Linked DNA regions of Homo sapiens: region 1 is linked to region 2. Evidence: fine-mapped expression QTL. A gene starts in region 2. The other region holds a variant in brackets. All regions are shown on one strand. Distances are between the middles of the regions.

Region 1 (2,864 bases), 22 kb after region 2:
TCTTTATTCTGATTCCCACAATCGTCCCGAGGGGGCAGGCCGGAGCGGGTCTTGAAAATACACATTTGCACATCCCTTCTAGTCCGCGTTCCCTTTTCTCAAGGGCAACCCGCACTTTTTTGCCTCCGTTATAAAAGATACTTATGTAAATTACTGACGTGCGAATTTACATACATTTCTCAACTAACTGCGTAGCCATTTCTCCGTCTCTCACCTCCGTTCCTGGACGGCGAGAAGGAGGAGGAGCTGACCATGTAAATGAAGTCACGCGCACCGCGCTGCCGAACTCGGTGCCCCGCGCTGGGCGGGGGGCGGGTAGGCCTGTCCATGTAAATCACATCATTTGCGTGCCCCGCCCCGCCGACGCCACTTGATTCCAACATGCAAGAAACGCCCCCTCCCAGACCCGGCCCCTCACACTGCGTTCCCCCTCCCGCGCAAAGGGGGCGGGGCGGAGGATGCAAATGAACCTCGTGTAGGCCACGGACCGCTGTTTCCTTTCTCCTTGGTAGGGGGGTTGTCCCGAACTTCCTCGCCCCGCTCCGCCCCGCCCCGCGCGGCTCGGGCCTGCGCAGGCGCCGTCCCCTCCGCGGGGCGCGGTCACGTGCCCACCGGGCGAGGCGGGGCGGGGCGTCGCGCGCGGTGGGGGCGGGGTATGGCGCGCTGTGCGGCGCAGGGCGGCTGGCACAAACGGCGGCGCCGGGGCCGGAGGAAAAAGCTCGGTGAGGAGGTCGCGGGGCGAGAAGGGAGCGGGAGGAGACTAAGCCGGAGCCGGGGCGCCGGCGCGAACCGGGCGGGGTGTGGGGGCGCGCGCCGGGGCCTGCCGGGGCGACCCCGGGAAGGGGGATGTGGGTGCGGCGCGGGGGAGGGGACGCGCGCCGGTTACGTTGGGTGCCGGCCGTTGTGGGGGTTGGGGTGGGGGCGGGGAGCGCGCGCCGGGCGGAGGCCGAGTGGAGGGGGAGGGGAGGGGGTCCGAGCGGCCCTTAGGCCCTGCCCCTGTCGCCTACTGCGCTCAGAAGGGGCCTCAGGGCCTGCCCCGGGTTGGGGGCGTTGGGGTGCCCTGGATGGGGGCACCTTTATCTCTCGTCCTGTCTCCGGGTGCGTGCACCCTCCTCCGTCCTTTCCTCTGTCGCCGCGGACCCTCTCCCCGAGGGCCCCTCCCGTCGGTCAGTCTCGGGACCTCCCTTCCGTCTGGGCGTGTGTCCGCCCCCGGCCGGCTTCCTCCCGTCGGGCTCGGGTCGACCCCACCGTCCCGCTCCGCCCCGGGTCCTCCCTCCCAGCTTCCCTCCGGTCTATTTTTCTGTCTCTGGGCCCCTCGTTCTCTTTGTTTTTGGACTCCCCAGTTTC[CTCTG/C]TCTTTTGACCCCCCCGCCCCCACCCTGACTCTCCCTGGAACCCCCACGTTTCTCGTTGTCTTTCTGGAACGCCGAGGCAGGTCCCTCCTATTTTCCAAACCCCCTCCTTTCCCACTCCTCCACACCACCCTTTTCTACTCCAGCCCTCCTTCTTCTGTCTTTGGTTACCGCGTCCCACAACCTGCACCACAGTCCTCTGTCTTAGGGTCATCTACCCAGCCCCTGGCCTCCAGCCTCTCCCTATCACTGCCTCTTATCTGTCAGCGGACTCCCGCACCTCCAGATTCTCAGGGTCCTCTCCCCGACTTGGCCTCAGGTTTTGGGGGGCCTCTATAGTCAAGTCTGTCCTGGTCGTCTTCCCCACTCCTGCCCATACCATCCCGGCTTTCCCCTGCCTGCCTGTCTCTAGTTTCTCTCACATCCCTTTTTTTTTTTCCTTTCTCTAGCCACCCTGAAGGGTCCCTTCCCAAGCCCTTAGGGACCGCAGAGGACTTGGGGACCAGCAAGCAACCCCCAGGGCACGAGAAGAGCTCTTGCTGTCTGCCCTGCCTCACCCTGCCCCACGCCAGGCCCGGTGGCCCCCAGCTGCATCAAGTGGAGGCGGAGGAGGAGGCGGAGGAGGGTGGCACCATGGGCCCGGGCGGTGCCCTCCATGCCCGGGGGATGAAGACACTGCTGCCATGGACAGCCCGTGCCAGCCGCAGCCCCTAAGTCAGGCTCTCCCTCAGTTACCAGGGTCTTCGTCAGAGCCCTTGGAGCCTGAGCCTGGCCGGGCCAGGATGGGAGTGGAGAGTTACCTGCCCTGTCCCCTGCTCCCCTCCTACCACTGTCCAGGAGTGCCTAGTGAGGCCTCGGCAGGGAGTGGGACCCCCAGAGCCACAGCCACCTCTACCACTGCCAGCCCTCTTCGGGACGGTTTTGGCGGGCAGGATGGTGGTGAGCTGCGGCCGCTGCAGAGTGAAGGCGCTGCAGCGCTGGTCACCAAGGGGTGCCAGCGATTGGCAGCCCAGGGCGCACGGCCTGAGGCCCCCAAACGGAAATGGGCCGAGGATGGTGGGGATGCCCCTTCACCCAGCAAACGGCCCTGGGCCAGGCAAGAGAACCAGGAGGCAGAGCGGGAGGGTGGCATGAGCTGCAGCTGCAGCAGTGGCAGTGGTGAGGCCAGTGCTGGGCTGATGGAGGAGGCGCTGCCCTCTGCGCCCGAGCGCCTGGCCCTGGACTATATCGTGCCCTGCATGCGGTACTACGGCATCTGCGTCAAGGACAGCTTCCTGGGGGCAGCACTGGGCGGTCGCGTGCTGGCCGAGGTGGAGGCCCTCAAACGGGGTGGGCGCCTGCGAGACGGGCAGCTAGTGAGCCAGAGGGCGATCCCGCCGCGCAGCATCCGTGGGGACCAGATTGCCTGGGTGGAAGGCCATGAACCAGGCTGTCGAAGCATTGGTGCCCTCATGGCCCATGTGGACGCCGTCATCCGCCACTGCGCAGGGCGGCTGGGCAGCTATGTCATCAACG
Region 2 (2,896 bases):
AGCAGTTATGTGGAGATCAGGGAGAAGGGAGAATGCAAAGGCCTTCAGCAGGCACAAGCTTGCCATCTTCCCAGACCCTAGCTTTTAACTCCTCTTCCCCAGGTTCAGGGAGATTACTATGGAGATCTGGCTGCTCGCCTGGGCTATTTCCCCAGTAGCATTGTCCGAGAGGACCAGACCCTGAAACCTGGCAAAGTCGATGTGAAGACAGACGTGAGTGTCATGGGGGCTGGCAAGAAATGTGGGGGGAGGACCCTTAGGTTGTGGGGATGGGCAAAAATGCTCCCACACTTGGCTCCCTGGCAGCCTAGGTATGTGCGCTGGGAGAAATTCTTTCCCTGCCTCAATTTTCTCACCAGTAAAATGGGTCCAGTTGGGAGGTGCAAAGATTAGAGGGCTCTAGGCTAATTTGCATAGCACTTGTGTGGCCAGACCTGGGCCCTGCAGCTGCAGCCTTTGCTAAAACCACTAGATCCTTTGTGGTGTGACCGCTGGTTTTCTTTCCACTGTTTCCCCTTTCTCTTTTTCAGAAATGGGATTTCTACTGCCAGTGAGCTCAGCCTACCGCTGGCCCTGCCGTTTCCCCTCCTTGGCTTTATGCAAATACAATCAGCCCAGTGCAAACGGCTCGTCTCCGTGGTCTTTGGGGTGGGGTAGGGTAGGGTGGGGACTGTACAAATGAAATGTTTCTCTAGGTTGCTGAATCTAACCAATTAACCCGCTGCCTGTGGTAACGTCAGTGGTTGCTAGGCAGAGTTTCACTGATGAAAGCCCTGTGCAGTAGGAGCGCTCCTAAGCTTAGGTTTCGGACACAAGCAAAGGAAAACCTAAGCAGCCCAACTAGGGGATTGTAGTGTCCTCTCTAGACCAGTGGGAGGGAGCCAATCGGACTACGCGGAGGATATAAATCGCACAGTAAAGGTTTTCTTGGAAGATTATCTGGAAAGGGAGGTGGGAAGTAACCTGCGCCTATCTGCCCAGTTTTCCTCCTTTTCGCCTTTGAGAACAGTAATCGCTCCCGCCAGCTCAAGATCAGCTCCTCTTCCAGCCTCTTTCTGTCAATCCTGCCCGTGCCCCCTTCTTTGCATTTGTATCCCCTCCCCCAAGTCCGCTCCGATCCAATCCGGAGACTCGACTCTGCCCCCCGTACTCCAGACTAAATCCGTTCCTCGGCTCAGCTAAGCAGCTCTGCACGTCCCTTCCCACTTGCTCAGCCAATCGCTGGGCTCGGCCCCGCCCCTTTGGGCTTGGTCCTTCTCACGCCACCAATCCGCGCCTCTTGTCCCGCCCCCTGCCCGCGAGTCCGCCAATCCCGCCCTTCGGAAAGCGTCGCCTGGTATCCAGCTGCCGGAGCGGGTCGCGCCGGAGGGGGGCGGAGGCGGAAGTGGCGGTGCCGGGCCCGGGGAGTAGGAAGGAGCCGGGGCTGTAGCCGGAGTGGAGCGGCTGCCAGCCGAGGAGCAGGCGCGGCCGCGGCGCCATATTGCGGCCCTCAGCGGCCGCGACCGAGTCATGGCTGAGACCTACGGTGAGGGTGGTGGACGAAGCTGGGGTCCTGGGTCTGGGCCCAGGGAGGATGCGGCCTGTGGGAATGGGCGGGGCTTTGTAGATCAGGGGGCGGGGTCTGGTGTGATGGAGGCAGGACCTAAGTGGATGCTGGGAGGGGTTTAGTGGGTCTGAGGCTGAGCTTAATCGATTTAGGTGGAGCCTGAGGGTCTGGTGCGTGGGTTAAATAGATCTGGGGCGGGATTTGAGGGAGCTGGTCCTGAGGGGTTCAGGGAGGCCCTGAGGGAAGAGGTGGGCCTTAATGGATCTGGGCGGAGCCTGAGTGAAGGGGCGGGGCTGACTGCATGAATGGCAGGAGTCGGGCTTATGGGCTAGAGGGAACACTGAATGGAAGCTCGGGACCCTGGGGCTGATCTGGCTGGAGAGAGCTCTGGAATGGGTTTGGGGATGGGCTGTCCTTGAGTTAGGGGCAGGACTTAGTGGCAAAGGGTGGGACTTATGCATGAGAATGGAGCCGGGTTCTGGGCAGAGGGAGGGAAGGAGAGGTCGGGAAGTGGAAAATCAGTAGGGATGCACCATAGGAGGTGGTGATTGGAGGCAGGGGAAGTGCAGGTTTAGGAGTCAGAGGGAGCCGCATTCACTCAACAAATATAGAAGAGAAGGGAGAAGAGTGCAAAGACCCTGAGGTGAGAACCAGCTTGTCATTTTCAGGGAATAGACTGAAGGTCAGGAGCTATAGTGGAGTGAATGAGTCAGAGGGTGGTAGGAGGTGAAGAGGAACAAGGGCTATATCGTAGTCCTTGTTTAAATAGCTTTCAAGAGACTTTAGCGACAAAATAGCTAAGATCTGGGACTCTGGAGCCCTTGGCCTAGGTTTGAATCTCACTTCTGCCCAGCTGTGTCACTTTGGGCAAGTCAGTTAACCTTTCTGGCCTGTTACCTCATCCGGAAAATGGGAATAATTTTTAGTCTACCTCCCTCATAGAGTTTTCCTGAGGATGATGTGAGCTGTTGATGTGAGTAAAGACCTTTAGAACTGTTCCTGGCCCACAACAACACACAATTGACCCATGTAACAAACCTGCACATGTGGGCTGGGCGCGGTGGCTCATGCCTGTAATCCCAGCACTTTGGGAGGCTGAGGCAGGCGGATCACCTGAGGTCGGGAGTTTGAGACCAGCCTGACCAACATGGAGAAACCCCGTCTCTACTAAAAATACAGAATTAGCTGAGTGTGGTGGCGCATGCCTGTAATCCCAGCTACTCGGGAGGCTGAGGCAGGAGAATTGCTTGAACCTGGGAGGTGGAGGTTGCGGTGAGCCGAGATCGCGCCATTGCACTCCAGCCTGGGCAACGAAAAGTGAAACTCTGTCTCAAAAAAACAAAAACAACG

Which allele goes with the higher level. Positions count from the first base shown, and alleles are read on the strand shown. Sizes are in standard deviations (SD) of each study's normalised expression.
With allele CTCTG in place of C in region 1, the expression in monocytes after LPS of the gene that starts at base 1,353 in region 2 is lower (moderate effect, 0.58 SD a copy in Fairfax 2014).

The links. PIP is the estimated chance that this variant, and not a neighbour inherited with it, causes the effect.
Region 1: its variant is fine-mapped to the expression of RAB4B-EGLN2 in monocytes after LPS (Fairfax 2014, PIP 0.95). The same link has a PIP of 0.9 or more in monocytes, monocytes after interferon gamma and neutrophils.

The regions. Positions count from the first base shown.
Region 1 is chr19:40,798,541-40,801,404 of GRCh38, forward strand. EGLN2 (egl-9 family hypoxia inducible factor 2) reads left to right here and starts at 651. Exons shown (of 6, transcript NM_080732.4): 1 at 651-722; 2 at 1,799-2,864. The coding sequence starts at 2,033. It overlaps RAB4B-EGLN2 (RAB4B-EGLN2 readthrough (NMD candidate)), which reads left to right. Exons shown (of 12, transcript NR_037791.1): 8 at 1,799-2,864. RefSeq lists silencers at 429-788, 939-988 and an enhancer at 2,412-2,864. The variant CTCTG/C (reference allele first, on the strand shown) is at 1,348.
Region 2 is chr19:40,776,867-40,779,762 of GRCh38, forward strand. RAB4B-EGLN2 (RAB4B-EGLN2 readthrough (NMD candidate)) reads left to right here and starts at 1,353. Exons shown (of 12, transcript NR_037791.1): 1 at 1,353-1,525. MIA (MIA SH3 domain containing) reads left to right here. Exons shown (of 4, transcript NM_006533.4): 3 at 103-213; 4 at 531-624. The coding sequence ends at 554. RAB4B (RAB4B, member RAS oncogene family) reads left to right here and starts at 1,381. Exons shown (of 8, transcript NM_016154.5): 1 at 1,381-1,525. The coding sequence starts at 1,510. It overlaps MIA-RAB4B (MIA-RAB4B readthrough (NMD candidate)), which reads left to right. Exons shown (of 10, transcript NR_037775.1): 3 at 103-213. RefSeq lists silencers at 515-644, 1,195-1,434 and enhancers at 1,495-1,564, 2,452-2,896.